Linked DNA regions of Homo sapiens: region 1 is linked to region 2. The links come from fine-mapping of genetic effects on gene expression. Tissue or cell type: whole blood. Region 2 holds a variant in brackets; the other region holds the start of a gene. All regions are shown on one strand. Distances are between the middles of the regions.

Region 1 (2,500 bases), 160 kb after region 2:
GCCTCTGCCAGCCACCTGTTGCAGCACTTCAGCCATCGAGCTGGACGCATTTGTTCTGCTGTACGAACTGGCGGGAGCCAGGCTGGCCCAGCTATCTCTGCCAGCTCTGTCCTGGACTGACTCCACATAGGTCCCCTTGCACCTTGCTCAGCTTGGGAGCCTGTGGACTTTCAGGAAAAGAACAAGTGAACACCTAAGCCTGTGTGACGACTCAGTTTCATCATTGTAAAATGGGGTAACCATATGCCAAACTCATACGGGTTTTATTACTCAGTGAGCTGCTCACAAGCCGCGAGTACAGTGACGGGCACACAGCGGGCACTCAGTCTCTGACCACTGGGGCCCGTATCCACAGACGTACTTATCCCCTGACCAGGAACTGCGATGACCTTCGAGTTAGGAAATAATGAGACTGCAAAATTGTTGTGTTTTCTTGTGTGGAAGAGCAGGATGTTTTAGTCTTGTTTGGAATGGAACATGATCATTCAGGGTGCTCCTTTGTCGTTTTTACTTTGAATGGACGATTGTGCTAACTTAGCATTCTGCTTCCAGGAGCTCGCTCTTCAATACACAATCTATTAAATACAATAGCAAGGATTCCCTACATTATAATGCAAAGCTTTAGGGCCGGATCCTCCAACACACGCATTGTGGTATTAAAACAAAATCACATCACGCATGGAACTCTCAAGATAGTGGAAAATACCAGCTACAACATCCAGTGATGTGTGACCCGGAGGCACGGAGCTGACTAGAATACCGACGGGCCAGAATTTCAAAACGCGGATTTTGAATCTTTTTTTCTACTTAGCCTAATAAGTTTGGGTCTTTTACTTAACGTCTATCTAGGCGGCTCAGCTTCAAGTTCTGCAAATTGGAGATAATATCATTAAGTTACAGATGTTATTTGAAAAGGCAACGAACCATTGTAACCATTTTTGTAAACCATGAAGGTATATTATAAGAAAAGGAGGAGGAAAATGAGAGGTAACTTGTGCATTGTTGGATGTTGTTTGCCTGTTCTGCTTTTTCTCTTGTCCAGCAAGGCTTGGGTAGACAATCATACATCATGAATGGTTAACTTGAAAACTGAGTTCTACTGGAAAGACTGGCAGGCAAGCAGAGGTCGGAATCCCGTCGTTTCTAAGTGTCTGGTAATCTTTGCCACTGCTAAGATTACCTGGGGGTAGAAGCACCGTCGGTAGGAACAAGATGTGCCCCTTCACTCCCCGAAAGCTCACTTATCCTGCGCAGACATGTTGAAGGGCCGTCGGGCTTCAGAGCCCAAATCTCGGCTCTGCAGAGACGTCCCCTTCCCCCGCCTCCACCAACCGCTCTTCGGCATGCAGAAAAGCGGTCCCCACCCCTTCCACGCCCCTGCCCCACCTCTTGGCCCCCTTTACAACCCCCTCTTCTTTGCCCGGGGTGGTTTGTTCCAAGGAGTACAGATAGCCTTTTCAAAAGGCGCAGCTTACCGCGGTGCGCGCGGATTCTGGACTTGGGCGCCAACTCGTAGTCCACGCTCCCCGGGGTCAGCAGAGGGGCGCTCACGCTCTCGCCACCCACCTCGCTTTCTCACCCCGCGCTTCCCGGCCTGGGTTTTTAGTCTTCCTTGGAGCGCTCTCTGGCCTCCGCCTCCGCCAGGGAGCGGAAGGCGGAGACAGCGAGACTGGCCAGGGGGGAGGAAAGAGGACGCGTGTGGGCAAGGGGGACAACGGGATGTCCACGGGCTCGGTGAGTGATCCGGAGGAGATGGAGCTTCGGGGGCTGCAGCGGGAGTACCCGGTCCCCGCCTCCAAGAGGCCGCCCCTCCGCGGCGTAGAGCGCAGCTACGCCTCGCCCAGTGACAACTCGTCGGCAGAGGAGGAGGACCCCGACGGCGAGGAGGAGCGCTGCGCTCTGGGCACAGCCGGCAGCGCGGAAGGCTGCAAGAGGAAGCGGCCCCGTGTGGCTGGGGGCGGCGGCGCAGGTGGTAGCGCGGGCGGTGGTGGCAAGAAGCCCCTCCCGGCCAAGGGCTCAGCCGCAGAGTGCAAGCAGTCGCAGCGGAACGCGGCCAACGCCCGTGAGCGTGCCCGGATGCGCGTGCTGAGCAAAGCCTTCTCCAGGCTCAAGACCAGCCTGCCCTGGGTGCCCCCCGACACTAAGCTCTCCAAGCTGGACACGCTCCGGCTGGCTTCCAGTTACATCGCTCACCTGCGGCAGCTGTTGCAGGAGGACCGCTATGAGAACGGCTACGTGCACCCAGTGAACCTGGTAGGGGCGCGGCGCGCAAGGATTCGGGAGAGCAGCCAGGAGATACCCAGGGCGCTCCTGGGCGCCGGGCAGGGTCAGCCCGTTGGGAAGAATTCGAAAGGGGTGGAGGTTCTGGGACTGGGAACGAGAAGGCCAGTTTAGTTTCTCCCAAATCAAGGGAGTGGCCAGCCATTTCCCTGAAGAAGAATCAACCCTCCGTGTCTGTTTGCATCGTTCTGAACATTGTACCCCAGTGACAGCCATTGAC
Region 2 (2,847 bases):
ATTTTCATTTAGTTAGGAGATGTCAAATTTGATAATATGCCTATTATAGTATTTGATTACGTGGCAAATGATAAACTAAAAGCAATTTTATTTTTTCTTAATTCTAACCCTGAAAACCACTCTGTGGACTTTTTCTATTCTAGCCTTTTTTAGAGAATAAAAAGTTCAGTATGAGAACTAAAGATTCTCACCAACTTTGAAGTTTCCCCTTTCCTAGCCTGGTTTGCCTCCAGCTTAGAAGCCTGCAGTATAGAGGGGATAAGTTATAATTTGCCCCTTTTCTCTTTCCCCACCAATCCCTCCTTCCACACTCAGTGTGCTGCCCCTGGCTCCTCCAGGAGGGGAAAGGAGAAGTCTTACTTGAGCAGGACAGCTCTAATCTAACATGGATACCGCTTGGGTATGAGAGATATTTAAAGCTGGCTCTCTTGGGAGACAGTTTTGTGAAGGCATTTGGAGATTACAGTCCCCTGGTATGGGCTATGTCTCCTCTGCTGGTCCCTTGCAACTCCCCACGCTTACCTTTTATATCCAATATTGTATATCTAGGCTTTAGGAGCTTAGGCTGCTTCATCCCTAGCTGAAAGTCCTTTGGGAGGGCTCTTTACAAGATAGGGACTGGCTGCTTCCCTCCTGTATGGTCTAAACGTGGCCTATAGAAGTGTATACCCTTGCCCATCACTGGGGGAGAGGCCGCTTGCTTCCTAATCTGCCCTCCATAACTTCAGAAGTATAATTTAAAGTGGCGGTACTCAATCAAAGCCTGTACACTGTACAAGAGTTAAAACTGAACCAGAAGAGAAACAGAAACTGTGAAGGGTCATCACTTAACTGTTCTCTAGAATTTTCAGAAGAACTGGCCTATTTATTGCTTGTCACTGTGCATGCACTTATTCATAGAAGTAGTTACAAGATTATAAGATACTCTCACAATGTGTGATGTCCCTTCATGCCAGGTCAATTCTCACTAAGGGACCTTTGCTAATTCTTAAAGTACCTCCTTACTTGGCATTTCCGGAAGACCACTCAGCATCACATCTGAAAGTAGCAAGATTAGTCAGCATCATGTATGAACCCAGAAGATTAGTCAGAAGCAAAAAAAAAAAAAAAAAAAGCATTTCTTGGGCACTTGTTTCGAAAGCAAAGGGTCTAACCACCAATCACAGTTGCATTCTGAAAGACATTGTAGTAAAAAGTAGGGCGCAAAGTCACTTCTAGCTAGCCAGTCAGCAATGCGGGGGCCCCTAAGC[G/A]TGCTAATTATGGTGAGGTTACAAAGGAGCTGCAAGGCTCAGCCTCATTAGTCAAGTTGCTCACACTTCAGCTGGGGAGGTGACATTTCTTTCAATTTAACTAAACTTAAGAGGTTCAGTGAAATAAATTGTATTTCATAAACTTTGGGGGGCTCAGAGAATTGTCCTCATTCTTTATTTTAAAAATCTATTCATTATGAACTTCACACTTAGTTCAGATGTCACTGGGTAATCAATAGACAGTGAATGGTAGAAGAAAATGGATCTGGCAATGTCATATAGTAGTAGTTGCACAATGTGATATATAAGGAAAGGTATTACATTATAGTGGAAAGAAATCACAATGAATGCTGCTGAAATCATAGGATTGATTTTGGGGCCTTTTTTTTTTGAGACAGGGTGTTGCTCTGTCACACAGGCTGGAGTGCAATGGTACAATCAGGGCTCACTGCAGCCTTGACCTCCTGGGATCAAGTTATCCTCCTGCCTCAGCCTCACAAACAGCGGGGACCACAGGTGTGCACCACCATGCCCAGCTAACTTTTTTATTATTTGTAGAAATGGGGTCTCACTCTGTTGCTCAGGCTGGTCTCGAACTCCTGGGCTCAAGCCATCCTCCCACCTCAGACTACCAAAGTGCTGGGGTTACAGGTATGCACCATCATGCCCAGCCTGATGGATTTGGGGAGAAATATGTAATGGAGCAATGAAACATAAACATGATGAAGGAGTTGGGCAGAGCTAAACTCCATAGAAGCTGGGGTAAACACAACTTGTTCCACAAACAGAGATGGTTCTTATAACTTTGGCTCTCGTGGGAGCAGATGGCTTATGTCTGATTCCAGTCTGTGGTAGCAAGCCTCTCCTTTATGTTGAGCAAATGGGAAATTGCAGCCAAGGCAGGCACTGTTAAGACCCAGCAATCTGCTGTACATCAAACTGCACACTATAGATGGCAATGCTTCCTGAATTTACGGATTAATACTTCAGAGCTTTAAACAGTAAATAGCTAGATCTGTTGATCTCAACATGGTGTACTTGGAAATTAAGACAAAATGAAGGAAATAATTTACTGTTACAGTAAAGGCTCTGAGTATAATGTTTATCATGTAACATTCCTTTCCTTAGAAAATGTGGGAAACTATGTTGTGGGAGCTTATAAAATAACAGAAAATGTTTGTTCTGTGAGGAAAAGCTAAGTGCACTCTTTCCTTTCCACCATGTATCACTGGGTGCAATTATGTGTCAAGTGGGTCAATAACTGAATTGAAAGTAAGAATCTTCCCTAAGGTTTCCCATGCATGTGTTTTTTCAGAGATTCATTTTTGTTTGTCCAAAATGAAGAATTTGTCTTTATTCAGAAATGTGATCATCAAACACTTGCCCTGAACCTGTGCTCTGAGTCTTCCTTGGGGGAAGCCGTCAACCTCCTTGTTAGAGAATCCTTTGGGAGGCAAAAGATAGAAGCGATCCCAAAGAGGTCCTGGGATTTGCTCAGGGATGAGCAAATAGGAAGTGACCAGGACAGCACTGGCACCCTGGGCTTCTGAACCTAGACTCAGCGTTATGTCTAGTCCAGCCACGTAAAACATTGACG

What was found. PIP is the estimated chance that this variant, and not a neighbour inherited with it, causes the effect.
Region 1: it holds the start of MSC, and the variant in region 2 is fine-mapped to the expression of MSC in whole blood (TOPMed, PIP above 0.99).

What each region holds. Positions count from the first base shown.
Region 1 is chr8:71,843,398-71,845,897 of GRCh38, reverse strand. MSC (musculin) reads left to right here and starts at 1,486. Exons shown (of 2, transcript NM_005098.4): 1 at 1,486-2,253. The coding sequence starts at 1,720. MSC-AS1 (MSC antisense RNA 1) reads right to left here. Exons shown (of 5, transcript NR_033652.1): 1 at 2,194-2,500; 2 at 1,476-1,669. RefSeq lists silencers at 1-28, 1,868-2,137.
Region 2 is chr8:71,998,780-72,001,626 of GRCh38, reverse strand. All of the region lies in intron 4 of MSC-AS1 (MSC antisense RNA 1), which reads right to left. Among named protein-coding and RNA genes, the nearest start is that of TRPA1, 75 kb to the left of the region's middle. The variant G/A (reference allele first, on the strand shown) is at 1,251.